Linked DNA regions of Homo sapiens. The protein of the gene in region 1 purifies or fractionates together with the protein of each later gene. This does not show direct contact. Each region holds a gene or a part of one and is shown in the gene's direction. Other genes may lie near its edges. The genes, in order: NSUN2, NT5DC2, TXNDC5, COLGALT1, PNO1, MAT2B and POLD3.

Region 1 (3,906 bases):
GATTTTATGTTATTTAGTTGAATGAAAGAAATTTCGGAGTTCAAGCCCTTAAGAAATTCATTTTGCTTGTGTTTTTATACCTTTCTTGAGATAATACATCAACATTTTAGATATTTAGAGTTTAGATATAAAATAATACTCATGGTATAACTGAGTAACAAGTTTTTTTAAAAGGAAAGAAACAAAACTAAAGACATCATCTGTTCCGTTCCCATAGGAGGTGCACGGATGATGATCCCAGGTGATAATGACTTCTGAATGACATAAGTTTGTCAAGACCAGAATTCAAAAGCTGCCACAAAACTTGTTAGCACAGAATGCAAGCTTTAGATACGATACCACATTATGGAAGAATGCCATTTTGTTTCAGTAAGTGGCAGAGTTACTGCTCATGGCAAAACTCAGTATGAAACTTGCAGCTGGTGGCTCTGAATATAGCTGAGTGTTAAAATAATCTGGAAAAAGCCCTCTTTAAAGTAAAATTTAAAATACATCATGAACTAAAGTTTTTTTTTCCTCTAGGTTGCAATTTTTCAGTATTCCTTGGGGTCTCATGTTTTCCTACCCCTGTTTTTTGATCAGAAAGATAACTCGTTCCTTGTATCATATTCTGAGATCTGAGAACGCAGTGACCTTATGAGCAAGAGGTTGCAAGCTGGGGAAATTTCTGAAATTGTGGTGGGATTTCTACCATGCAAACAACTAGTGTACAGCCAGGAATGCCATTGCAAAGTGGGGATTACATCTCATGGGATAATTCCATCCTGCAGACCTAGTCCCTCGTGTACACGCGGCTAGACCATCAAGGAAAATCAGCATTTACAGAGAAAGCCAACAAAAACAGGCGTTACCTTCTGGGAAAACAGGGCAGATAAAATTAGACACAGAAAGTAACAAATCCAGTCTTTACTATAAAATATACATGGAAAGAGCTTCCATTAACAAAAACATGAAAATAACTTCCATTAAATAAAAGTAGAAAGTCAGAAATTTAACGGTGATTGTAAGAAAAATTTAGCTATTAGTAAGAAAAATTTAGCTATTATATTAGCTTAATTGAAATTACTATGGAAAATTTATTAGTCATTATTCATATAATTCTGATTAAAATGCCATTGTTGATTAACTGAGTTTTTCAATAGTATTTTAGGTTCTGAAAAACATGAAAATAACTTCCATTAAATAAAAGTAGAAAGTCAGAAATGTTTACCTGTGATTGTAGGAAAAATTTAGCTAATATATTAGCTTAACTGTGGAAAATTTCTTATTAGTCATTATTCATGTAATTCTGATTAAAGTGTCATTGTTGATTAACTGAGATTTTCAATAGTATTTTAGGTTCTGTGTCCTAGGTCTGCAAATTAGTCTTGCTAGTGTTTTTTCCAAATGGAAGCACATTAATATCTCCTTAGTGAATGGAGTTTACTGTTCAAATCCATTATTTTCTGCTTGAAAATTGAAGTATAATTTAAAACTATAATACATTAGAAAATCCCTAAAACAAAAGCTGAAAGCAGATTGCAGTTGGTGAAAATGGAGATTGTTTCCTAACTGATATTTGTAACACTTGTTTTGTAACTTAGCTTGTATGTGACATATCTGTTAAAGTGCAGTCATCCACCTGTAGGGAGCTTTGCACTCATAAATATCTTTTTTCCAGTGGAGACGGCACTATGAGAAAAAACATTGATGTTTGGAAAAAGTGGACCACCTTAAATAGCTTGCAGCTACATGGGTAAGTAAAACTTCATCACTGCTAACACTGTGTGACAAGTAGATCAGCAGAGATTTATTGTTATGCAAGTGAGCATCCGATCTTTAATTAGAGAGCTGTAAGCATCAGAGGATGGTCAATGGCCACCTTCAACTGTTTTATCAGAAGTTATTTGAAAACCTTTCAAGAGCAATAACTGCAAATTGTATACATTTCAGATAACACGTTTATTAAAAATGCCTTCTATAAAAATTTCTTGCAACACTTCAGATATGTATTTTTCCATGAAATGACCGTTTACCTCTTGATGTATGCATTACTAATCTTTTCTCTCTGTTTTTGTTCTTTTGTATCATCGTTTTGCTAAGAGACATTTTGATCTCTTAGAAATATTTTTCGGTTGGCTTTTTATGATGGGGAACTATTCATTAAAGAACAATTGGAAAATTCTTAAAGAGAAATCTCATAACACGATGATCACGTCTGTTAATGTTTGGTGTGTTGTATTGTTTTTCTGTTTACAGGGATTTTTTAAGTACTTTTTCCAAATACTTTTGATCATGCTGTCTGTAGAGCAGTGTATTCTTTTTTTCATTTGACATGACAAATGCCATGGTCTTGCATGCAGGACTGTACTGTGCCTGAGCCACAGAATACTAATTAGCATCCACCACAACCAACTATAGCAGGAGGCCTCGTCTCCATAAAATACTGTCTACTGTTTTGTGACACAGAGACAAGAGTTAGGACTGGAATGTATGATACCAATTTTTCATAGAAAAACCACATATTTAGGAAGTATGGAGGTTTTTTAAATAGTGAAATTTCATCTAATACATTGAATTCTGTTGTTACTGAACTTTATACTCTGCTGGTTGACATATTGGGAAAGGTTAACAGAGCAGTAAGAATATTTATATAATACATTTTTTTTATTAACATGAAACACTTTATATAAGTTTACTCTAACTTCATTTAGATCCCTGGAAGGTTTTTTTTAAGTATAATTGTGTTATAAAAGCTTGTAATGAATATGTGACATAAGGAGGTGCTTCTAATATGTGCACTTCATGGATACATTTGGCCTTGCAGTCATCTGATATCTCCCCTTAGCTTACAGCTGCGGATTGCAACACGCGGGGCTGAACAGCTGGCTGAAGGTGGAAGGATGGTGTATTCCACGTGTTCACTAAACCCTATTGAGGATGAAGCAGTCATAGCATCTTTACTGGAAAAAAGTGAAGGTAAGCACGCTTGATGGATCTTTTATTAACAGCATAGGGGGCTTTTCATATGTGTATGGTACAATACACATAACGTGAGGTTTACCATCTTAATCATTTTTGAGCCTGCAGTTCAGTCCCGTTAGGTATATTCCCATTGTTAATCACCACCACCATCCATCTCCAGAAATCTTCACCTTGCAAAACTGAAACTCTGAACTCCTTTAAACAGTAGCTCCCATCTCTCTCTTCCCTGCCCCTCACACCACCGTTCTATTTTTTGTCTGTATGACTTTGACTACTCTAGACCTCACAGAAGCGGAATCATACTGTATTTGTCTTTTCGTGACTGGCTTATTTAACTTACTGCAGCGTCCTTGAGGCTCACTTGTGTTGTTGTCTGTGTCAAAATTGCATTGCTTATTAAGGCTGAACACTATTCTGTTGTTTATATAAACCGCATTTTGTTTACCCATCCATCTGTTGATGGACATCTGGGTTTCTTCCACTTTTTGGCTGTTGTGAGCCATGCTGCTGTGAGCATGGTATACAAATACCTCTCCAAGATCCTGGTTACGATTCTTTGGATATACACTCAGAAGTTGAATGGCTGGATCATATGATCATATAGTAATTCTGTGTTTAATTTTGGGGGGACCCCACCATGCTTTTTTTCACAGTGGCTGCGTCATTTTGTATTTCTACCCCCAGTGCACAAGGGTTCCAATTTCTCTACACATTCAGGGACACTTATTATCTGGGGCTCTTTGTTGTTAGTAGCCATCCTAATGGGTGTGAGGTCACCTCATACAGTTTTATACTGAGGAACTGACAGATAGTACAGAATATTCTGAAACAGTAGTGTATTTCTACAGTGTATTGATATAAAATATTTCTCCTTTTATGTTTTGCCAGAATGTTAACTTTTCCCATCATATTTTCCTTAGAGCCAATAATGAGAAATTTCAA
Region 2 (3,892 bases), on another chromosome or scaffold:
CGGAGGAGGGATGGGGGTTGCCCGGCCCGTGGCCCAGCCACAGACTGGAAGTCATGCCCTTTACCTGCACCCCAGGCCTTTCAGAAAACTCGATGAGAAGGGCTCACTTCAGTGGGACCGGATCACCCGCTTGGAAAAGGGCAAGATCTATCGGCAGGTAAGGGCCATCTGGGGAGAGCAGCATGTGGTGGGGGCATGGGGCCTAGCTAGGGCCCCAGGCTGTGCAGAGGCAGCCTCTGAAGAAGCAGCACAGCTCCTTGGCCCTGAGCAGCCTCACACAGGCAATGGCTGGCAGGGAGCAGGTCTGGGTGGCCTCGAGAGCTTGACCTCTGGGTCAAGCAGCCTGGCTTTGAATTCCTAACTCCACTACTCAGCAGAGGGAGCCTGGCCTGGTTGCCTGACCTCTGTGCCTTGCTTCCCTTGTCTGCAAAAGAGGTGTAATACTCTCTACTGAAGCTGTGGTATAAAGCTCTCAGAATGGCCAGTGCGCCAGGCACCGTGGCTCATGCCTATAATCCCAGCAGTTTGGGAGGCTGAGGCTGCAGGATAGTTTGTTGAGCTCAGGAGTTTGAGACCAGCCTGGCCAACATGGCGAAACCCCATCTCTACTAAAAATAGAAAAAATTAGCGGGGCATGGTAGCATGCACCTGTGGTCCCAGCTACTCCAGAGGCTGAGGTGGGAGGATCACTTGAGCCCAGGAGTTCGAGGCTGTGGTGAGCTGTGATCACACCACTGCACTTTAGCCTGGGCAACAATGCAAGACCCTGTCTTCAAAAAACAAGAATGGTCAGAGATCGTGAAATGCCTGATGAATGGTGTCATTTCTTGGGGTTGAGCACTCTGCTGCAGCCAGAACAAGTCTGGTTGGGGGCAGCTCACTGGGTGATCTAGAGAAACTCCTCCTTCCTACCTGGCTAGGAAAATGAGAGGGACTGGTGTTGAGGTGGGATTAGGTGTCTATGAGCAGGCAGTGATTAAGGTTTAGCCCTGGCTGGAATGCGGAAATCCTGGCTGAGCTGGGCTTCTTCAGGCTAGGGGTTCTAAAGGCCTTGGGGCTGGAGGAGGGGGAAGCCAGCAGCTGGCCAGGGGAGCAATGTGGAGGTGGCCAATGCCCAGCCTGGCCTGCAGGAAACACCCCCACCCTCTCAGCCCTGCCCACTTCTCTGCCTCCCACCCTTCCGCACCCAAACTCTCCACAGCCCTCGGGCCCAGGTGCGTCCCTTCAGCTCTGAGGGCGCTGCTCTCCCCTGCCTTGGCATCCAGCCTCAGCTAAAGAGGGTCATACACCTTTGTGAGAAACACATGACTTTCTTCCCTGGCAGCTTTCAGGCAGTTCTTTATGCCCAGTATTCTGAAGCTGCTTTCCACTGTGTGTTGGATCCTGCCTGTCAGTCACTAGGAGTCTGTCAGTCTCCTGCCCTTTGAGACTCTTTCTCTTGGTCTGGGGCCTGCCTGGGCCTCTGCCCCTCCACTTGAACTTAGTTCAGCAATTGGCTTCTCCCACACCACCTGTTTCCCCCAGCGCTTCCACTTCTGAGGCTTGGAATGCACAGACTGCTTCAAGAACTGTGCTTGCTGGGTGTCAATTATTCTCGCTTTTGGGGTGTGGACTCCTACCCTGGTGGCTGCTGCCTGAGCACTAGTCTGGTGATTCCTGCTCTGGGCCGCTCAGTTTCTGCCACCCTGTGAGCTTCCCCAGTTACATGTGGGCCTGGCTGAGTGTCTCCATCTTTCTCTGGCTCCAAGATGCTGGTGGCCCCGGTGAGGTCTGCCATTGGTCTGCCAGGTCCCTCTGCACTGAGGCAGGGGAGGCCAGCAAGGACTTCAGGGCTGCAGAGCCTTCCCTGCAGTTTCTACCTTACAAACAGGGATCTAATCCCTAACCTGGGGTACGTGTGAGACCACAGGGAGAAGGCCCTCGAGGCATGGGCACCATGCCAGGCCTGTAGGGCACCTTCCTGCAGCAGGCAGAATCCCCTTCCCAAGTAGGAGGGGAAAGTGACAAGAACCAGGGCCCAGGGAGGGAGCAGCAAGGCCATGGGAAAGGGCAGCCAGCATCCGGCTGGATTTGGGCTGCCTCTGGGGATTCGGGAGGGAGGACTGGTGGAGGACAAGGCACACTTGGCTCAGCAGCATTCCCCTCCTCTCCCTAGGGAAACCTGTTTGACTTCTTACGCTTGACGGAATGGCGTGGCCCCCGCGTGCTCTACTTCGGGGACCACCTCTATAGTGATCTGGCGGTGAGGGAGGCAGGGCTGGGCTGCAGTGGGGGAGGGCCAGGAAACCCCCCCCCCCCCGCCCCCAGCAACTGGCGCTGAGCCCAGTTCTGCCGCCCCACCCACCAGGATCTCATGCTGCGGCACGGCTGGCGCACAGGCGCCATCATCCCCGAGCTGGAGCGTGAGATCCGCATCATCAACACGGAGCAGTACATGCACTCGCTGACGTGGCAGCAGGCGCTCACGGGGCTGCTGGAGCGCATGCAGGTGTGGGCCGGGGTGGCTGTGGGAGGGCCAGGGCGGTAGCCTCCTGGGTGCACACACCCAATGCACACTTTGTGTCCCCAGACCTATCAGGACGCGGAGTCGAGGCAGGTGCTGGCTGCCTGGATGAAAGAGCGGCAGGAGCTGAGGTGAGCAGGTGGGGCCAGGGCAGGAGTCCCAGCCAAGCCACCACCCCAGGCCCACCCCTTGAGCGCATCGTGTCTCCCTCGCCAGGTGCATCACCAAGGCCCTGTTCAATGCGCAGTTCGGCAGCATCTTCCGCACCTTCCACAACCCCACCTACTTCTCAAGGCGCCTCGTGCGCTTCTCTGACCTCTACATGGCCTCCCTCAGCTGCCTGCTCAACTACCGCGTGGACTTCACCTTCTACCCACGCCGTACGCCGCTGCAGCACGAGGCACCCCTCTGGATGGACCAGCTCTGCACCGGCTGCATGAAGACCCCCTTCCTTGGTGACATGGCCCACATCCGCTGAGGGCACCTTTATTGTCTGGGACAGGCCCTCAGCCCCTCCTGCCCCATCCACCCAGACAAGCAATAAAAGTGGTCTCCTCCCTGTGCATGCTTCTGCTTTCAGCCCCAGCCTCGTCACTTGACTGTGAGGATCCTCTGGGTGTCAGGGAAGTCCTCCTCCAGCAGTGAGTCCTAGAAGAGCAGGGTTGGTGGTGGAGGGTGTGACCAGGGCCTGGGCCCATCCCACATCTGCCACACTTCTTCACTTCCATGCTTACATCGAAGGGTTCACAAAAGGTGTCGCTGCCAAAGACAGGGTTGGGGACAGAGACCAGGGTGGGGTTGGTCCCTTCTTGCCACGGTGAGAAGTCGTCATCAGCATCATCTTCCGCCTGGGAGCAGCAGAGGGGTGAGTGGCGAGGCGCCTCAAGCGAGATCCAAGGACCCGCCATGGCAGCCCCAACCCAGCCCTACCTGGAAGGCAGAGAAGCCAAAGCCCATGGGCTTGCCTCGGGCACGGAGGTAGAGAGCTCCGGCCACCAAGCCAAGCAGTGCTCCAGCGGCAAGCACAGCCCCCACGCCTGCCGCCACAGGTGGGGCTTCAGGCGCCAGCACTGCCTGCTACAAACAAACAGGGAGAGTGTTGACCTGGCGGGAGCTGTCCCACCACCTTCCCCGGGCTCACAGGTTGTGGGGGTGCCAGGAAGGGCTCTGCCTCCCCCTTCCTCAACTCACGGGCTGTGGGGGTGCCAGGAGGGGGCTGGCCAGAGCATGGATGATGCCATTGAAGGCCATGATGTCCCACACAATGATACGGCTAACCACAACTGTCCCTGGGGCCTGCAGGGAGACCAGAGTCAGGCCCACTGTGAGCGAGGGCCAGGGCCAACAGGGTGGGACAGTGGCCAGACTCACCACAGGGGCCCAGGAACT
Region 3 (3,906 bases), on another chromosome or scaffold:
TGGCACATGTGGCTGGGTTACACTGGACCCTTAAAAATGCTTGTCCTCTCCCGACCTTGGGCTGAGGCCTCTTGTACTTCAGTTCCGCACCTTAGCTGCTCTCTGACGGGTCTTAGGTGTTGAAATAGTATTTTTACCCCCGTTTGCTGACATAGTGAATAACAACTTAGTCCTGCCTATTTTAGTGCTGGTAGAAAATAAAAAAGAAAGCAATGACTTAGAACAAGATGTTTCATGAAAATGTTGGGCAAGCAGCAGCTTTATGAGATTTAAATGAAAGAAAAAGCTTGAAGAGCTGTGCTTGTTGGTAAATTAAGTTTATAAAATTAAGGACGGATTATAATCTTGACATCTTTGCAGTCTTACCTTTATTATATACCAACTACTCCTGTTTAAAATTCACTTCTTGCTCCCTGTTGATTTTAAAACCCTCTAAGCTTCAGCATGAGAGTAAATTCTAAGCTGGCATGTGAACTGGTCTGGGTCCCAGTCACCGACAGCCAGGCTAACCCCCCTCCCACCACCACCAAATGTCAAGCCAGGGCCCTGACTCAAGCTACCAGGTGCTGACTTTACTTGCTCGAGTTAAAATGTTGCTTCCTAAAAACCGGCATGTTTAACTGAGCTATTAATACAATAAATCTTGCCTCTAAAGTCTTTCCTTTACTCCTTTTAGCTCAGGTATGTTTTAGCATAGCTTTCAGGAACATTCTCTTCAAAAACTGCACCTTGCTGGCAGAGTTGCTACAGAATGTGGATTTTGAAAAGAATATTTGTAACGTACAAAGTGTCCAGTAGCCCCATTAGCAAGAAGGTTCATGAAGAAACTGACTGGGAAGTTGATCTGCTTTTATTCTCAGGTTGATTGTACACAGCACTATGAACTCTGCTCCGGAAACCAGGTTCGTGGCTATCCCACTCTTCTCTGGTTCCGAGATGGGAAAAAGGTACGTCTGCACTTCTTAGTACTGAGAATTCTTCATCTCTTAACCCCATCAGGCTGAGCTACTGAGTGGTTTAATGGGCACAGTGAATTGCCAATCTTGATTGTTAGGGCACTGGTTTGGAGAAATGTGTATAATGAAACAAACGTCTTTCTCTTAATTGATAAGATTTGGGTTGTGGAGATGAACCTTGAAACATTTCAGTGGCCCAGGTTATCACTAGAATAACCCACATCTTACAGTCACAGGGTAACTGTGCTCTGGTTGTAAACACAAACCTTCAGGCCTTTGAACAGAGCTAAGGCTTGCACTTGGTCCGGTTCTGCCTGCCTCCCTCCCTCCTTCCCTGGCCGATGGTCAGCAGCTCAGAGTTCCCCATCAGCACAACGGCTTGCTGGCAGGCCTCTGCCCCAGACTTCTGTGATGTGTAACCCCGTGGAGGGAAGAGGGGCCTGTACAGTTCTCTCACCAAAGCCGAGGCATTCAGTTATCCTCTCTACATTCCCGTCTAAATATGAACATGCAGACTTTGCACCACCGCTAAGACATCTGGGAGCTCTGACCCGGGCAAGCAGGGGTTGCAGGAAGGCTTAAGTGATTCAGAACACCTCAGTGGACTCACTCAGCCGCGTGCCCGTGTCTTGGCCAGGTGGATCAGTACAAGGGAAAGCGGGATTTGGAGTCACTGAGGGAGTACGTGGAGTCGCAGCTGCAGCGCACAGAGACTGGAGCGACGGAGACCGTCACGCCCTCAGAGGCCCCGGTGCTGGCAGCTGAGCCCGAGGCTGACAAGGTGGGTGCCTGCTGGAGTCGGGATCCCCATAAGTGGCCCGTGGCCCCCGGCCCCCCACCTCCCCACCCTCAGAGGCCTCCTCAAATGCTTTGGACAAAATGACAGTTTGGGGACACAGTCATCTGATGGTTGGCTCCAGTTGCGTTTTCAACACGTATTTTTCATCGACTTTCACATGCTTTCAGGGGCGAATGCAAACAAAAGCTTTCCTTTTGAAAACATGAAATGGATGTGAGACAAATCCCAAGACAATATTTGGTGTCAAAAATCTCTAGAGAATCCTTCCTTTCCGCTTCATTCATTTTAAAGAATGACTCTGCTGGGCATGTTTCTGCTATGAAATCTCGACTGCTGGCCCCGGGGCCCTGATTCTATTCCTGACCTTGCTCCGGGCATTTTCCTTTACCCGTTGTAAAGGCCCCTAGAAGACCTGTAGCCAAGAGGGCATCCGCAGCGATCAGGCCAGTGACTGTAGCTGTAACCTGCCTAGGCAGTCCTGATGCACTGAGGGGCTTCCTTCCTTCACTCAGGTAGCAGGAGGTTTCAGATTCATTTGTTCTGCTTTATGAAGCCCTTGTTATGTCACAGGCACTGTTCTAGGCCACCAGGGAATAAAAATAAGACCGGTTTCCTGCCTCTGAAGCATACAGGTCTCTGAGGCAAATGGTGAGAAGACACACAAGCCAATGGCAGGGGGCTGGGGCAGAAATGTGTGCAGGGCTTGGCTGCTAGAGAGAAGTGGGGGCAAATGGGCAAGAAGTGTCCCTAAGGAGCTGATTGACGGGATCTGTGCTGGACAGATAGGCTGGGCAGGGCTGCCACTGAGGGGCTGCACCAGGAGAGGCACAACCCGAGAATCAGCCGGCATTTCTGCAGGGCCAGAGCTGGGGCTGGGGGAACACAGTGGGAGACAGGTCAGGGTGTGGTGTAGGATCCCTGAGAGTGAGAGAGGAGCTGGAGTTGAGAGTCTGTGGGCAGCTGGCCAAGGATTAGGAACTGTATCCCATATTGACAGGGAGCCCATGGAGGCTCTGTGCAGATTGGAGTTGTAGGAAAATGACCGGCATGCACGTGTGCTGGAGGTGGGAAGCTGCTCTATTAGGCCTTTAAAGATGATGCGTTCCCTCATGCTGCAGCCGTGACTGTGCGATGGCGAGGAGGAGAAAGCCAGCATAAGGAGTCCAGCCGCTGTGCAGCGCGGAGAGGGAGGGAGGGTCCGAGGCGAGTCTGATTCCCGCATATCTGGTGGAGGATGGTACCCAGCACAGGGGCGGGGCCAGAGCTCGAGGAAAGGGATGAGCTTGGTTTTCAAGGTGTTGATCTTCAAGGCTTTCGGCTGTGTAGGTGGCAGTGTCCAGTGGCAGTTCCAACCATGAGCCTGGGGCTGCGGCAGGAGGTCTGCACTGGACGAGAGTGCCCGTGTCATCCTCTTCAGGTAGAAGTCATGCCTGAAGGCCAGGAGTTTGGATTTGGAAAAACCAGTGGGGCCACCAACCCCTCCTCCCTGGTGGGGCCACACCAGGCCTCCTCACCCCTACAACCCTGTCCCTAGTTGGGCTCTTGTAGGTCGGGGATGGCCTGAGTGTTGTTTAAAAGTTGACGTTTTGGTTGAAGAAGTAAACAGCTGATTTTGTAGTTGTCAGGACCACTTATGTTAGAGGAGTGTATGTGTCATGGTGGTTACAAAGGTCATCCCAAATTGAGTATAATTATATACCACGGATGTTTTCATCGCAGCACCATTTCTATTTATAATGCAGTTTTCCACCATGAAGTGGGTCTTTTCAGTGCGTGTGGCGTCATGTTTCTGGACATAAAGATGGTAGTGTTCCACAGTGGCCCCCTTGGCCTCCGTCACTGACATGTTACTCGATGCCAGACTCAAATGGAGCAGCCCTGGTACACTTAGCCACGTGATAAATCATCCCATTCCTGCTCTCAGGAGAGAATCGCAGATCCATTTTTGGAGAAACACATAGACGTCATTCTGTAAAGAACTGTCAAGGGAGAATGGCTTTAAAGCAGACTACCATGTAGCACCTTTCCCTTAAATTCTCCAGCCAGAGCTTCCATCAGCGTTTTTCACATTGACTTAGAACAGGCTGCTTTCCATTTTTATGTTCAATGTAAAACAGGTATCATTGCCTTTGCTATTGTAACTAGGTTCTT
Region 4 (3,906 bases), on another chromosome or scaffold:
CAAGATTGTGCCACTGCACTCTAGCCTGGGTGACAGAGCAAGACTCTGTCTCAAAAGAAAAAAAAAATTAAGTGACACATATTTGTTAGTGAATGTGGTTTGCAAGATCTTAGATGCTCAGTAATAAAACAGCCAATCACTAATGGGTCTTTCCAAAATCAGCTTGTTTAATCCTTCCACTTCCCAGTAAACTGGGTCCTGTTCCCACCCCCATGTTACAGATGAGGAAACTGACATGGAAAGGGAGAAATGGGCCGGGCGCGGTGGCTCACGCTTGTTAAGTCCAGCACTTTGGGAGGCCAAGGTGGGCGGATCACGAGGTCAGGAGATCGAGACCAGCCTGGCCAACATGGTGAAACCCCGTCTCTACTAAAAATACAAAAAAATTAGCCGGGTGTGGTGGCGGGCGCCTGTAGTCCCAGCTACTTGGGAGGCTGAGACAGGAGAAGGCGTGAACCCGGGAGGCGGAGCTTGCAGTGAGCCGAGATCGCGCCACTGCACTCCAGCCTGGGCAACAGAGCGAGACTCTGTCTCAAAAAAAAACAAAGGAAAGGGAGAAGTGTCCTGTCCAGGGATACATAGCTGGTGGGAGGCCAGTTGGGGATGGTGGTCCTTGACTTGCCTCACTGCTGCCTGGTCCTGCCTCAGTCTCCCCAAGTACGCTGCCTGTCCCCTCTCCCTGCAGGGTGGCTACGGACCACAACATGGATAACACGTCAACTGTGCTGCGGGAGTGGCTGGTGGCCGTGAAGAGTTTGTACCATTCCGTGGAGTGGCGGCCAGCAGAGGAGCCCAGGTGAGCATCTTTCCCCTGCTCCTAGTCTGATTGGGCTTTGCCTCTGCTCACACACCCTCTATGGCTCCCCATTGCCCCAGAACAATTACAGGCCCTCAGTCCCTGCCTCCAGCCCAGCCAGGCAGCATTAAGCTACTCTGAGCCTCCCTCAGCTTTACAAATAGGCCATAATCCTCTTCTCAGACCTTTGCCCAAGCCGTTCCCTGTACCTAGAATTCTTTCACTCCCTTTTTCTTCTGGGGACGCCCACTGCTTTGTTCCCTGGCTCACTGACTCAGTCTTGGTCCCAGCACTGGCTTTGCTGTTTATCTACTCCCTAAAGCCCTGGGCAGCATGGACTCCCTGCCCCCACCCAGTTCCTTTCTGGGTTTTTGTTTTTTTTTTGAGACAGGGTCTCACTCCCTCACCCAGGCTGGAGTGCAGTGGAGTGAACACAGCTTACTGCAGCCTTTAACTCCTGGGCTCAAGCCATCCTCCCGCCTCAGCCTCCTGAGTAGCTGGGACTACAGGCACATGTAACCATGCCTAGCTAATGTTTTTGTATTTTTTGTAGAGATAGGGTCTCACTGTGTTGCCCAGGCTGGTCTCAAAGTGCTGGCCTCAAGCGATCCTCCCACCTCTGCCTCCCAAAGTGCTGGGATCGCAGGCGTGGGCCACTGCACTGGACCCCACTGAGCTTCCTTCCTTCCTTCCCTCCAGTGTGCCTCGGGCTTTCTTCCCTCCAGGCCTTTGCACAGGCTGTACCTCCGGCCAGGAACATTCTCCCCACTTCTCTTTCCTCGTCGTTTACTTTTTCCCATCCCTCAGATCAGCTTACACGTCCCCTCCTCCAGGAAGCTCTCTCTGAGTACCCCGAAGGCAGCTCAGGCCCTCGCTGGGCTTTGATAGTGCCTTGTGATGTCCACATCACAGCTGCCTCCCCATAGGTCCTACCCGGACGAGGAAGGCCCGAAACACTGGTCTGACTCACGCTACGAGCATGTCATGAAGTTGCGCCAGGCAGCCCTGAAATCAGCTCGAGACATGTGGGCTGATTACATCCTGGTAAGTTTCTCAGCCGGCCGGATATGGATCACAGGCAGGTCTGGGTATCCCCAGGGAAGGCGGAGCAGCAGGATGCCAGGACCATCCTTAATGTTGTTTTGCAGAAGGGTAAACTGAGGCTTAGAGAGGGGAGATGAGTTGCTTGAGGTGATATGGTTGGTCAGTGGAGGAGGAGCTGGGATTCATTTGATCCTCAGCACTAGGAATGAATGGGCTTTTCTGTCCCCAGTTGTCCCCTGTGTTTGGACACTTGGGTCAAGTCCATTTTTATTTTTTTATTTTTTTGAGACAGAGACTCACTCTGGTGCCCAGGCTGGAGTGAAGTGCCGCAATATCGGCTCACTGCAACCTCTGCCTCCTGGGTTCAAGCGATTCCCGTGCCACAGCCTCCTGAGTAGCTGGGACCACAGGCACCCACCACCACGCCCGGCTAATTTTTTATTTTTATTTTTGTGGAAGCCAGGCATGGTGGCTCATGCCTATAATCCCAGCACTTTAGGAGGCCAAGGCGGGTGGATCACTTGAGGTCAGGAGGTCGAGACCAGCCTGGTCAATATGGTGAGACTCCATCTCTACTAAAAATACAAAAATTAGCCGGGCGTGGTGGCAGGTGCCTGTAATCCCGGCTACCTGGGAGGCTGAGGCAGGAGGATTTCTTGAACCTAGGAGGCAGAGGTTGCAGTGAGCCGAGATCGTGCCACTGCACTCCAGTCACTGGGCGACACAGTGAGACTCCATCTCATAAATAAATACATAAATAAATATTTTTAAAAAATAACAAATAAAAAATATTTTTGTAGAGACGGGGTCTTGCTATGTTGCCCAGGCTGGTCTCCAACCCCTGGGCTCAAGTGATCTTCCTGCCTCGGCCTCCCAAAGTGCTGGGATTACAGGCATGGGCCACCGTGCCTGGCCGTGTCACGTCTGTTTTTATCACCATCATATGTAATGGCCAAACCTTTGGGTCACTTCCAAGAAGCAGGAGGAAGGGGTCAGGGGCTGGGGGGTGGTGGCCACATTGAATTGCTGAGGCCTGACTTGCACTTCCTCCTCCTGTGGGGACATTGTCTCATGGGGAAGGGAACAGTTGAGTCTTTTTATTTTTTTCTCGAGCCAAGATCACGCCACTGCACTCCAACCTGGGCCACAGTATGAGACTCTGTCTCAAAAAAAAAAAAAAAAAAAAAAAAACAGACTTATAGGTTGAATATTACTATTATTTTTTAATTTGTATAAACTTATGGAGCACAAGTGTAATTCTGTTACATGCATAGATTGTGAAGTGGTGAAGTCAGAGATTTTGGGGCGTCCATCCCCTAAATAATATACATTGAACCCATTACACAGTTTTCTATGATCAACCCCAAATGTTATTTCAGCCTTCATACTTTTCTATATTCTCCTGATTTTCTTTTTTCTTGTTTTTTGAGACAGAGTCTCTGTTGCCCAGGTTGGAGTGCAGTGGCACAATCTCGGCTCACTGCAGCCTCCTCCTCCTGGGTTCAAGCAATTCTTCTGCCTCAGCCTCCTGGGTAGCTGGGATTACAGGCCCCCGCCATCATGCCTGGCTAATTTTTGTAATTTTAGTAGAGACGGGGTTTCGCCATGTTGGCCAGGCTGGTCTCTAAAGTCCTGACCTCAGGTGATCCAGCTGCCTCGGCCTCCCAAAGTGCTGGGATTATAGGTGTGAGCCACCACATCCAGCCCATCTCTTAAAACAAACAAACAAAAAGCAGAAAAGAAAAAGCAAAGAGTCAAGTGAGCAAAGTGATTACGATGCAGTGGTGGCTAGAGGTCCAACTACACAGGCCAGTGGAGGCACTTGGTGTCTACTTGGAGGGGAATGGGGAGCCATGGAGGGTGTGTGAGCAGGGGAGGTCTGTGTTCTGATTTGAGATTTTCAGAAGCCTCTGTGGACCAGGCGCGGTGGCTCATGCCTCTAAATTCAGTACTTTGAGTGGCTGAGGCAAGTGGATTGTTTGACTTCAGGAGTTTGAGACCAGCCTGGTCAACATGGTGAAACCCTGTTTCTACCAAAATATAAACATTAGCTTGGCATGGTGATG
Region 5 (3,906 bases), on another chromosome or scaffold:
TTTGATCTTTTATGGATTGAGCCTAGAGTCAGAAATATGGAGCCTTGGGAGAAGCTATTTTGAACTGGAAATGTGCAAATGCACACCACATTTAAAAATATGGCCAAGCATGGTGGCTCACATCTGTAATCCCAGCACTTTGGAAGGCTGAGGCAGGTGGATGGCGTGATCTCAGGAGTCTGAGACTAGCCTGGGCAACATAGTGAAACCCCTTCTCTACAAAAAAATACAAAAATTAGCCGGGTGTGGCGGCCCACACCTGTAGTCCCAGCTACTTGGGAGGCCGAAGTGGGAGGATCACCTGAGCCCAGAAGGTTGAAGCTGCAGGGAACCACGATCGTGCCACTGTACTCAACCCTGGGCGACAGAGTGAGACTCTAACAAAATAAAAATAAAAATACCACATATAGTCTGGGCGCAGTGGATCATGCCCATAATCCCAGCACTTTGGGAGGCCAAGGTGGGAGGAAGGAATGCTTGAGCCCTGAAGTTCAAGACCAGCCTGGGCAACATAGGGATCTCCATCTCTACAAAAAATATAAAAATTAGGTGTGATTGTGCACACCTGTAGCCCTAGCTGCTCAGGAGGCTCAGGTGGGAGGATTGCTTGAACCAAGGATGTCAAGACCACAGTGAACCATGATGGCACCACTGCACTCTAGCCTGGGTGACAGAGTGAAACCTTGTATCCAAAAAATAAAAAATTAATTAATTTAAAATCCATATACAGATGCTCCTCACCGTATGGTGGGGTTACGTCCAGATAAACCTGTTGTAAATTAATGATCTCATAAGTCAGAAGTTCATTTGATACTTCATTTGATATCATAGGATACTTCTCTTTGAAAACTGAAGAGCATTCCGAGTGTGTACCACTTTGGCGCAATTATAAAGTCAAAAAAAAATCTTCGGTTAAATCATCAAGTCATGGACTGGCTGAGTAGCCCTGAAAGCTTTCATGAATTTAGAAATCCATGGCCCGGCACGGTGGCTCACACCTGTAATCCCAGCACTTTGGGAGGCCGAGGCGGGCGGATCACGAGGTCAGGAGATCGAGACCATCCCGGCTAAAACGGTGAAACCCTGTCTCTACTAAAAATACAAAAAATTAGCCGGGCGTAGTGGCGGGCGCCTGTAGTCCCAGCTACTTGGGAGGCTGAGGCAGGAGAATGGCGTGAACCCGGGAGGCGGAGCTTGCAGTGAGCCGAGATCCCGCCACTGCACTCCAGCCTGGGCGACAGAGCGAGACTCCGTCTCAAAAAAAAAAAAAAAACAACAAAAAAAAAAAAACTAGCTGGGTGTGGTGGCACATGCCTGTTATCCCAGTTACTTGGGAGACTGAGGCAGGAGAATTGCTTGAACCTGGGAGGCGGAGACTGCAGTGAGTCAAGATTGCACCACTGCATTCCAGCCTGGGCGACAGAGTGAGACTCCATCTCAAAAAAAAAAAAAAAAAAAACGGCTGGGCATGGTGCCTCACACCTGTAATTTCAGCACTTTGGGAGGCTAAGGCGGGTGGATCACCTGAGGTTAGGAATTCGAAACCAGCCTGGGCGACAGTGAGACTCTGTCTCAAAAAAAAAAAGAATTTAGAAATCTAAAACTAACTGATTTGCCAATGAAATTATATAGTCTGTCATTAAGTTTATTACTGGTAAATTTATAAGTATATTTGTAAGTGTTAACCTAAAATTTACTAGTTAAACCAACGTTTTAGAAGTTTATTGTGGCATAATTTACATACAATAAAATTCTATTGTTTTAAGTATCCCGTTCAATGAGTTTTTGGCAAATGTATATTGTAGTCCCATGACACTCATACAGTTCTCTTACCCTGAAAGTTCCCTCGTGCATCTTTATGGTCAGTTGCCTGCCCCCACCCTTTTCTGGGACAACCATTGCTCTTGTTTCTGTCACTCTTATTTTGCATTTTCTAGAAATTCATATAAATGGAAATACACAGTATGTAGGCTTTGGTGTATGACTTCTCTTAATTAGCATGTTATTTTGGATTTCTCCATTTTGTTGGGTGTATCAGTAGTTCCTTTTTATTGGCAAGTACTATTTCATTGCACAGGTATACTGTTGACCCTTGAATATTGCAGGGATTAGGGATGCTGAACCCCTAACATGGTTGAAAATCCATGTATGTATGACTTGACTCTCCCAAAACTTAACTACTCCTGCTTTTGGCTGGAAGCTATACCAATAACAAACAGTTGATAAACACATATTTTGTATGTTATATGTATTATATACTGTACTCTTTCATAAAGTAAGCTAGAGAAAAAATGTTATTAAGAAAATTATAAGGAAGAGAAAATCTATCTACTCTTCATTAAGTGGAAGTGGGTTATCATAAAGGTCTTCATGGTGAATAAGCTAAGGAAGACGAGGAAGAGGGGTTAATCTTGCTGTCTCATGGGTGGCAGAGGAGGAAGATGTGGAAGGCGAGGCAGGAGAGGCAAGCATACTCTGGAACTTTACAGAAATACATTGTAATTTCTGACTTTTTTGCCCTTTCACTTCTCTAAAAATGTTTCTGTAGGGTACCAATCCTCTTCCACAGTTTTTAGTTTCAGTGCCCACGTCATAAAAGGGTCTATGTCATAAAAGACGTCAAAAGCATCTTGAATAATCAGAAACCTTCTGCCAAATTGTCTAATGTCACCTTGTTTTCTGACACTGCTGCTTCTACATCATCTTCCTCATCACCCGGCACTGCTTCAGAAGCACTCACCTCCATCAAGTCGTCTTCTGTTAATTCCTCTGGCATAGTGTCTGTTAGCTCTTGATTTCTCCGTGATCCATATCTTGAAACCCTTCACCCCTCACTTTTGGCCATATCCACAGTCTCTTTCATGATTTCTTGTTTGGCTCTGTCGTAAATCCTGTACTGTCATGCAAAACCTCTGGACATGGTTTTCTCCAGCAGGAATTTATAGCTGCAGGCATGAGGCTTTCACAGCTTTTTCCATAATAATGACAGTGTCTTCAATGGCATGGTCCTTCCAGACTTTTATGATGTTCTTTCCATCGAGTTCTCTTCCATAGCATTGACACTATTTTCCATAGAGTAGTGTGTGTAATGAACCTTAAAGGTCTTTATGACTACCTGTTCTGGAGGCTGAATTAGAGAGTGGGTGCAAGGAGACCACTTTGTTGCCTTTCGGTATTGAACTCATGGGGTTCTTGGGTGGCTGGGACATTGCTCAACATCAAAAGAGCTTTAAAAGGCATTCCTTACTGGCAAGATACTTCCTGACTTCAGGGAAAAAGCATCAATGGAATCAATCCAGAAAAAGAGCTCTCCTTGTGCAAGCCTTCTTGTACATCCAGAAGACAGGCCACTGGTGTTTACCTTTTCCCTTCAAGGATCGGGGTTAGCAGCTTTATAGATAACGGCAGTCCTGATCATAAACCTGACTGCATTTGCACAAAACAGTAAAGATAGCCTATCCTTTCCTGCATTAAATCCTGGTGTTTGCTTCTCTTCTTTACTAATAATTGCCCTTTGTGACATTTTTTTCCAGAACAGGACGTTTTTCATCTGCACAAAAAACCTGTTCAGGCAGATATTATTTCTCCTCAGTGATTTTCTTAATGGCATCTGGGAACTTGTCTGCTGCCCTTTGGTGAGCAGAAGCTGCTTCTCCTGTTACCCTGACATTTTTAAAGCCACCTCTTTCTAACATTATCGAAGCATCCTTTGCTGGCGTTAAGTTCTCCAGCTTTAGATCCTTCATTTTCCTTTTGCTGTAAGTTGTCATATAATGACTTAATTTTTTTCTCCATCATATTAGACTCTATAGATGTGTCTTTCTTAGAACAATCCTGCACCCACATAAAAGCTGCATTTCCAATTTGAGATTGTCAAGAAAAGAATCACAAGATCTATAAATTTGG
Region 6 (4,642 bases), about 160 Mb from region 1:
TACCATCAGCAGGGACCATTATAAAATCTAAATATTAATGAGTGGTTGTAAAACTAATGTGAACACTCATATACCCTTCACATAGATTCACAAATTGTTGATGTTTTGTCACATTTGTTTTATATGTTTGCTTTTGCCAGACCCATTGATAATTAGTTGAATTTCATCTCCAAATACTTTACCTTTCTTTTATCTTCTAACAAGAAGAATGTTCTTCACATAATTACAGTGCAGTTATCATACATTTGGAAACTTAACATTAATATGGTACTGTAATCAAATACAAATCTATTTAGGAATTTTCTCATTTATGCCAAAAATGTCCTTTATTGCTTTTATTTTTTAATCTAGCATCCAGTCAAAGACTATTCATTGCATTCAGTTGTCATGATAAGTTTTATTTTTAATGATCATATTAATGTAGGATTTATATATATAAAAAAAACTAGTCCAAATGACAGAAGATACTTAACAAATGTGGTTTTGCCTTTTTCTTTTTTTTTTTTTTTTTTTTTTTTTTGAGACAGGGTCTCAGTCGCCTGGGCTGGAGTGCAGTAGGGTGAACACAGCTCACTATAGCCTTGACCTCCTTGGCTTAAGCAATCCTCCCACCACGAACGGCTAATTTTTTTACATTTTGTAGAGACGAGGTCTCACTGTGTTGTCCACGCTGGTCTCGAACTCCTGGGCTCAAGTAGTCCTCCTGCCTTGGACTCCCAAGTGCTGGAATTACAGTCATGAGCCCCACCGCACTCAGCCTTTGACTGTTTTTAATTTTATTTTTGAGGCAGGGTCTCACTCTGTTGCCCAGGCTGGAGTACAGTGGTGCAGTCATAGCTCATTGCAACCTTGAACTTCAGGCTCAAGAGATCCTTTTGCCTTACTCAGCCTCCCAAGTAGCTGGGACTACAGGCATGTGCCACCATGCCCAGCTAATTTTCATTTTAATTTTTTGTAGAGACGGAGTTTTGCTATGATGCCCGGGCTGATCTTGAACTCCTGGCTTCAAGTGATCCTTCTGCCTTGGCCTCCCAAAGTGCTAGCATTATAGGCATGAGTCACTGTGCCTGGCCTTGAATATTTTTACATTGCGTTGTCACAAGTGAGCTGTGTCATTTTGGTATATTTTAATTAAAAGGCAAGGTTTCTACTTTGATATTATTTAAATCCACACCCTTGTATCTTACATCAAAATTTAAGAATCAGTCAGCTTTAAATTATTTGCTTTTATTCTTCTCTAGGAGCTGCTGTTTTGAGGATTCCTATTCTGTATGGGGAAGTTGAAAAGCTCGAAGAAAGTGCTGTGACTGTTATGTTTGATAAAGTGCAGTTCAGCAACAAGTCAGCAAACATGGATCACTGGCAGCAGAGGTTCCCCACACATGTCAAAGATGTGGCCACTGTGTGCCGGCAGCTAGCAGAGAAGAGAATGCTGGTAAGAAGGATTCCTGAGTCCTGTCTTAGCGAAGGTCCGCTTTGTCTTTTCCATGCTTGAACTTTCACAGCTGTACTTGGAGTGTTACTGAGTGAAAGCCAAAAGTGCTTTTTTAAAACTAGGAGACCAAACAAAAGTAGTTTACATATACACTGTATTCATGAAGAATAAAAATATTATGCTCTTCTGTTTGAATTTATTTCTTATGTACTATAGATCCCATCATTTCTTTTATTGCAAAGTGTTAGGAAACTTCAAAATAATCATCTAAGGTCTTTTAAGAAGATACTCTTTGGGGGCTGGGCGTGATGGCTCACACCTGTAATCCCAGCACATTTGAAAAAGTTGGTATTAAATATAATATCCATACAAAGAAAGATGAGACTGATTTAGTTTAGAATATTAATAGGATGACCACAGTTTTTTAATATATGAGAATTATATTTTGTAATATATAACATGACAATATTTAAGAAAGTTTAGCTCAACTTGAAAAATGGTTCTATTAAGTTTTTGTTGTAGCTTGGGATAATTAAAAATACTCATTAAATTGTACTGTTTTCATAAAAATTTGTAATGCTTTTTTATATTCCCACTAATTAAGTAAAATTGGAGCCTTTTTTTGATTTTAAAAATTCTTAAGGTTTAAATTCTAGAAATTGCTCTTTTAAGTGTTTTGCTAAGAGTATTAGTAGGAATTTGATTTTAGATATCTTGTGGAGACCTTTCCAGAAAAAGAGGGTTGCCTTTTAGTTCCTGGACCTTATTTTAAGTAAGCTTTTTGGTCAAACCTATTCTACTCAGCTCAAAAAGTTGAAACTATTGAATTTATTGTGTCATCGTTCTTAGGATCCATCAATTAAGGGAACCTTTCACTGGTCTGGCAATGAACAGATGACTAAGTATGAAATGGCATGTGCAATTGCAGATGCCTTCAACCTCCCCAGCAGTCACTTAAGACCTGTAAGTACATGGCTGTAAAAACCTTTAGATCCATTGCTATGGTATATATTATTGCTGTGTTGGGTAACTTCATTTCTCAGTACTAATCAAAGTGAACTTTGCTTGTATGCTGGCTGTTCATAGTGCTACTTTTCTCTAAATTATCATCTGTAGAGAAGATCATGAGTATTGAAGTTTGTAGAAAATGTATTATTGTCTTGATCATGACAGGCATTTGGTTTATTTTTCCAGGGATGATCAAATCAGATTTCTTACACTAAGAGCAAAAATAAGTAGCAAATATAAAACCTCAAAATGGCCAGGCACAATGGCTCATGCCTGTAATCCCAACACTTTGGGAGGCTGACGCAGGAGGATCCCTTGAGCCCAGGAATTTGAGACTAGCCTGGGCAATGGAGGGAGATCTCATCTCTGTTTAAAAATATATACATATTTAAAAAAAGGTCAGGGGGAACAAAGCCCTCAAAATATAGCCTTTCACTTACTTTTGATTTTTTTGTGTTTATCTTTCTTTAAAGATTACTGACAGCCCTGTCCTAGGAGCACAACGTCCGAGAAATGCTCAGCTTGACTGCTCCAAATTGGAGACCTTGGGCATTGGCCAACGAACACCATTTCGAATTGGAATCAAAGAATCACTTTGGCCTTTCCTCATTGACAAGAGATGGAGACAAACGGTCTTTCATTAGTTTATTTGTGTTGGGTTCTTTTTTTTTTTTAAATGAAAAGTATAGTATGTGGCACTTTTTAAAGAACAAAGGAAATAGTTTTGTATGAGTACTTTAATTGTGACTCTTAGGATCTTTCAGGTAAATGATGCTCTTGCACTAGTGAAATTGTCTAAAGAAACTAAAGGGCAGTCATGCCCTGTTTGCAGTAATTTTTCTTTTTATCATTTTGTTTGTCCTGGCTAAACTTGGAGTTTGAGTATAGTAAATTATGATCCTTAAATATTTGAGAGTCAGGATGAAGCAGATCTGCTGTAGACTTTTCAGATGAAATTGTTCATTCTCGTAACCTCCATATTTTCAGGATTTTTGAAGCTGTTGACCTTTTCATGTTGATTATTTTAAATTGTGTGAAATAGTATAAAAATCATTGGTGTTCATTATTTGCTTTGCCTGAGCTCAGATCAAAATGTTTGAAGAAAGGAACTTTATTTTTGCAAGTTACGTACAGTTTTTATGCTTGAGATATTTCAACATGTTATGTATATTGGAACTTCTACAGCTTGATGCCTCCTGCTTTTATAGCAGTTTATGGGGAGCACTTGAAAGAGCGTGTGTACATGTATTTTTTTTCTAGGCAAACATTGAATGCAAACGTGTATTTTTTTAATATAAATATATAACTGTCCTTTTCATCCCATGTTGCCGCTAAGTGATATTTCATATGTGTGGTTATACTCATAATAATGGGCCTTGTAAGTCTTTTCACCATTCATGAATAATAATAAATATGTACTGCTGGCATGTAATGCTTAGTTTTCTTGTATTTACTTCTTTTTTTAAATGTAAGGACCAAACTTCTAAACTAATTGTTCTTTTGTTGCTTTAATTTTTAAAAATTACATTCTTCTGATGTAACATGTGATACATACAAAAGAATATAGTTTAATATGTATTGAAATAAAACACAATAAAATTAACACTTGATCCAGAATGTTAACTTACCACCCCATCCTAGAATGTTACAGTTACTGTATCTATTTGTGGGAACGGATTTGTTTTTAACTAAAAATTAATAGCTATATAATCTTGTTACATTATACAGTTGACCCTTGAACGGTGTGGGTTTGGGGTATCAACCTTGCACAGTCTAAAATCCACTATAACTCTGGACTCCCCAAATACTTAATTAGTAAAAACCTGCTGTTGACCAGAAGCCTTACTGATAAACATAGTCATTTAACATATTTCTATCTTCTGTGTATTACATACTGTATTCTTAAAGTAGCCTAGAGAAAAGAAAATATTATTAAGAAAATCTCAAGGAAGGGAAAATATATTTACTATTCATTAAGTGGAAGTAGATTATCATAAAGTTTTTTTTTTTTTTTTTTAGACAAGGTCTCGCTCTGTCGCATAGGCTGGGGTACAGTGGTGCATTCTCAGCTCACTGCAACCTCCGCCTCCTGGGTTCAAGCAATTCTCCTCCCTCAGCCACTCGAGTAGCTGGGATTACAGGCACCCGCCACCACGCCCAGCTGAGTTTTGTATTTTTAGTAGAAATGAGGTTTTGTCA
Region 7 (3,906 bases), on another chromosome or scaffold:
TATATTCTGAATACAAGACCCTGATTGAAAAATTATTTGCAAAAATTTTCTCCCATTCTGTGGATTGTCTTTGTACTTTCTTGATGGTGTGCTTTGAAGCACAGACATTTTTTGTTGTTGTTGTTGTTTGAGACAGGATGTCACTCTGTTGCCCAAGCTGGAGTGCAGTGGTGTGATCTCAGCCCACTGCAGCCTTGACTTCCCTGGGCTCAGGTGATTTTCCCACCTCAGCCTCCCGAGTAGCCGGGACTACAGGTGCGTGCCACCACACTCAGCTAATTTTTAAATTTTTTGTAGAGATGGAGTCCCGCCATGTTTCCCATGCTGGTCCCAGGCTGGTCTTGAATTCCCAGGCTCAAGCCCCTGCCTTGGCCTCCCAAAGTGCTGGGATTACAGACATAAGCCACCATGCCTGGCCCATGGAAGTTTTTATTGCTGATGAAGTCCAATTTATTTATTTTTCCTTTTGTTGCTTATGCTTTTTTAAGTTTAAATTTTAAAATGATTAAATTTTTTTTAATCTTATTTTTTTTTTTTTTTTAGTAGAGATGAGATCTTGCTATGTTGCCCAGGCTGGTCTCAAACTCCTGACCTCAAGTGATCCTCCCACCTTGGCCTCCCAAAATGCTGGGATTACAGATACAAGCCACTGTGCCCGGCCTAAGAAGATTTTTTTTTTTCTTTTTTTTTTTTTTGAGGCAGAAGCCTTGCTCTGTCGCCCAGGCTGGAGTCCAACGGCGTGATCTCGGCTCACTGCAACCTCCGCCTCCCTGGTTCAAGCTATTCTACTGCCTCAACCTCCGAGGTAGCTGGGACTACAGGCATGTGCCACCATACCCGGCTAATTTTATTGTATTTTTAGTAGAGTTGGGGTTTCACCATGCTGGCCAGGCTGGTCTCGAACTCCTGACCTCAAGTGATCTGCCCGCCTCGGCCTTCTAAAGTGCTGGGATTACAGATGTGAGCCATCGTGCCAAGCCAAGATTTTTTAAATTGAGAAATAAAGTTGTATGTATTTATTGTGTACAACATTATGTTTTGAAGTATATATACACTGTGGAGTAGTTAAATCTAGCTAATAAATGTATTACATCACACAGTTATTTTGGTGGTGAAAACATTTAATGTCTACCATCTTTTCATTTTTCAAGAATATATCATCACTAACTGTAGTCACCATGCTATACAGTAGAGCTCTTGAACTTATTCCTGTCTAACTGTAATTATGTATCCTTTAGACCCACATCTCCCCATTCCCCCTCCCCTAACCACTTCAGCCTATGGAAAGAAAATTCTGCTTTCCACTTCCGTGAGATCACCTTTTACAGATTCCACAAATGAGTGAGATCATGTAGTATTTGTCTGTGTCTGGCTTATTTCAGTTAACATAGTCTCTTCCAGGTTCATCCATTTTGTTGCAAATGATAGGATTTTATTCATTTTTATGGCTGAATAGTATTCCATTGTGTATATACACTATATTTCCTTTATCCATTAATGGACATTTATTGATTCCATATCTTGGCTGTTGTAAATAGTGCTGCAATAAACATGTGAGTGCAAATATCTCTGACATACTGATTTCATTTCCTTTGGATGTATATCCGTAGTGGGACTGCTGGATCATACAGTAGCTCTATTTTTGATATTTTGAGGAACCTCCATACCGTTTTACATAATGGCTGTATTAATTTACATTCCCACCAACAATGTATAAGCATTCTGTTTTCTCCATACCCTTGTTGTGTTTTCTTTTTGATGTGTTGCTTGTGCTTCTGACATAATATCTAAGAAGGCTTTGCCTAACCCAGGGTTATGAAGATTTACTCCTGTGCTTTTTTCTAAGATTTTTTAGTTTTTGCACTTATATTTAATTCTGTAATCCACTTAGAGTTTAAAAAAATCATGGTTATCACTATGTTTAAGTTTTCTACAGATCGTGTGCTTGTTAGCATCATTATTATTATTGTTTTGAGACAGGGTTTCACCCTGTTGCCCAGATGGAAATGCAGTGGCGCAATTTTGGCTCACTGCAACTTCAGCCTCCCAGGCTCAAGTGATTCTCCCTCCTCAGCCTCCCGACTAGCTGGAACTACAGGCGCATGCCACCACACTTGGTTACTTTTTGTATTTTTTGTAGAGACGGGGTTTTGCTGTGTTGTGCAGGCTGGTCTCGAACTCCCAGGCTGAAGCCATCCTCCTGCCTTGTCCTCCAAAGTGCTGGGATTGCAGGCATAAGCCACTGCACCTGGCCATGTACTTGTTAACATTAGAAATGCTTCAGTCGGGTGGCTGTGGTGGCTCAGTTGTATTAGTCCCAACACTTGAGGAGGCTGAGGTAGGAGGATTGCTTGAGCCCAGGAGTTCAAGACAAGCCTGGGCAACATAGTGAGACCCACATCTTTATAAAAAGTTTTTTTAAAACATGAGCCTGGTGTGGTGGCATGCACCTGCAGTCTTAGCTACTCAGAAGGCTGAGGCAGGAGAATTGTCTGAGCCCGGGAGTTCAAGGCTGCAGTGAGCTATGATCACACCTGGGTGACAGAGCAAGAACCTATCTCTAAAAGAGAAAGAGAGGAGAGAGAAAAAAGGGAGGAAAGAAAGAAAAAGAAAAAAATGCTTTAGTTCCTACAGTAAGACTATACTAAAGCTTTCAGATTAGGTGTTAGTTCAAGCTAATTTTTAAATGAATCACTGAAATGTATAAATATTGACTATATCTTCTAGGAATCACTTGGAGTTGATTTTTTGTGTATGGTGTAAGGAAAGGGTCCAGCATCATTTTTTTGCACATGGGTATACGGTTATCCCAGCATTTTATAATTCATATTATTGTCTTGGCATTTTCTTGCTAATTATATGTCTTTCCCCACTAGAATATAAACTCTATGAAGGCAGGAAACTTGTCAGGTTCATCACTGTTCTGATTACTATTGCTGTGTCAGAAATCACCCCAAAATGTAGTGCCTGGAAACATCATTTTATTATGCGCATAGATTCTTTTGCTTTGGAATTTGGATAGGGCACAGTGGGAATGGCTTATGTCTGTTCCATGATGTCTGGCATCCCCGCTGGAAAGTCTCAATAACTGGAACCTGGTCATCTCTAGGCATCTTTATGCACATGTCTGGCTGTTGATTCTGGCCATCTGTTGGGCCTTTAGCTGGGGCAGTGGACTAGAGTGCTTGCATGTGGTCTATCTGTATGGCCTGGGCTTTCTCACAGCCTGGTGTCTCCAGGTAGTCGGACTTCTTACATAGAAGCTCAGGGCTCCAAAAGCTTGTGTTCCAGCACAATGTAGAGCCAATTGCCTTTTCTGACTAGCCTCAGAAGTCAAGCAGTGAATAACTGGTCATACCAGATTCAAGAAGTGGGCTCTACTTCTCAATGAGAGAATGTAGAAGAGCATATGGAATGGAAGATGCTGTCTCAGCCATCTTTGGAAAATATAACATGCCACAATTATTCTGTCTTCAGTGTCAGGCACATAATGAATGCCAATACATACTGAATGAATACCAAGCACTATGGTTTATGTTTGTTTTGAGATAGAGTCTCACTGTATCACCCAGGCTGGAGTGCAGTAGTTCAAACATGGCTTCCTTTAGCCATGACCTCCTAGGCTTAAGGGATACTCCCACCTCAGTCTCCTGAGAGTAGCTGGGACCACAGGTACATGCCACCATGCTAGCTGATTTTTTTATTTCGTAGAGTTGGGATCTTGCTGTGTTGACCAGGCTGGTCTTGAACGTCTGGACTCAAGCAGTCCTCCTGCCTCAGCCTCCCAAAGTGCTGAGATTATAGGCATGAGCCACCATGCTCGGCCTCACTATAGTATTTTCACAAACATTTCTCTCAAGTAATTTTTTTTTTTTTTTTTGACGGAGTCTCGCTCTGTTGCCTAGG

The links.
Region 2: the proteins of NSUN2 (region 1) and NT5DC2 fractionate together in Homo sapiens (co-fractionation; one large-scale study listed by BioGRID). This does not show direct contact.
Region 3: the proteins of NSUN2 (region 1) and TXNDC5 fractionate together in Homo sapiens (co-fractionation; one large-scale study listed by BioGRID). This does not show direct contact.
Region 4: the proteins of NSUN2 (region 1) and COLGALT1 fractionate together in Homo sapiens (co-fractionation; one large-scale study listed by BioGRID). This does not show direct contact.
Region 5: the proteins of NSUN2 (region 1) and PNO1 fractionate together in Homo sapiens (co-fractionation; one large-scale study listed by BioGRID). This does not show direct contact.
Region 6: the proteins of NSUN2 (region 1) and MAT2B fractionate together in Homo sapiens (co-fractionation; one large-scale study listed by BioGRID). This does not show direct contact.
Region 7: the proteins of NSUN2 (region 1) and POLD3 purify together in Homo sapiens (tandem affinity purification; one large-scale study listed by IntAct). This does not show direct contact.

What each region holds. Positions count from the first base shown.
Region 1 is NC_000005.10:6,615,779-6,619,684, reverse strand, and holds part of NSUN2 (RNA cytosine C(5)-methyltransferase NSUN2), read left to right. Parts: intron 1-1,660; coding exon 1,661-1,735; intron 1,736-2,827; coding exon 2,828-2,958; intron 2,959-3,906. UniProt on the Homo sapiens protein: RNA cytosine C(5)-methyltransferase that methylates cytosine to 5-methylcytosine (m5C) in various RNAs, such as tRNAs, mRNAs and some long non-coding RNAs (lncRNAs).
Region 2 is NC_000003.12:52,523,559-52,527,450, reverse strand, and holds the end of NT5DC2 (5'-nucleotidase domain-containing protein 2), read left to right. Parts: intron 1-75; coding exon 76-157; intron 158-2,155; coding exon 2,156-2,242; intron 2,243-2,347; coding exon 2,348-2,488; intron 2,489-2,569; coding exon 2,570-2,634; intron 2,635-2,719; coding exon 2,720-2,981; 3' UTR 2,982-3,064; downstream 3,065-3,892. Other genes in the region: STAB1 (stabilin-1), read right to left, coding at 3,095-3,151, 3,238-3,351, 3,434-3,580, 3,695-3,892. UniProt on the Homo sapiens protein: Promotes dephosphorylation of tyrosine 3-monooxygenase TH which decreases TH catalytic activity and leads to reduced synthesis of catecholamines including dopamine, noradrenaline and adrenaline.
Region 3 is NC_000006.12:7,886,536-7,890,441, reverse strand, and holds part of TXNDC5 (thioredoxin domain-containing protein 5 isoform 1 precursor), read left to right. Parts: intron 1-860; coding exon 861-947; intron 948-1,593; coding exon 1,594-1,737; intron 1,738-3,906. UniProt on the Homo sapiens protein: Protein disulfide isomerase of the endoplasmic reticulum lumen involved in the formation of disulfide bonds in proteins. Can reduce insulin disulfide bonds.
Region 4 is NC_000019.10:17,558,626-17,562,531, forward strand, and holds part of COLGALT1 (procollagen galactosyltransferase 1 precursor), read left to right. Parts: intron 1-685; coding exon 686-796; intron 797-1,722; coding exon 1,723-1,840; intron 1,841-3,906. UniProt on the Homo sapiens protein: Beta-galactosyltransferase that transfers beta-galactose to hydroxylysine residues of type I collagen. By acting on collagen glycosylation, facilitates the formation of collagen triple helix. Also involved in the biosynthesis of collagen type IV.
Region 5 is NC_000002.12:68,164,107-68,168,012, forward strand, and holds part of PNO1 (RNA-binding protein PNO1), read left to right. Parts: intron 1-831; coding exon of another isoform or gene 832-853; exon of another isoform or gene 854-1,768; intron 1,769-3,906. UniProt on the Homo sapiens protein: Part of the small subunit (SSU) processome, first precursor of the small eukaryotic ribosomal subunit.
Region 6 is NC_000005.10:163,515,277-163,519,918, forward strand, and holds the end of MAT2B (methionine adenosyltransferase 2 subunit beta), read left to right. Parts: intron 1-1,241; coding exon 1,242-1,435; intron 1,436-2,284; coding exon 2,285-2,398; intron 2,399-2,916; coding exon 2,917-3,087; 3' UTR 3,088-4,078; downstream 4,079-4,642.
Region 7 is NC_000011.10:74,595,506-74,599,411, forward strand, and holds part of POLD3 (DNA polymerase delta subunit 3), read left to right. Parts: intron 1-3,906. UniProt on the Homo sapiens protein: Accessory component of both the DNA polymerase delta complex and the DNA polymerase zeta complex.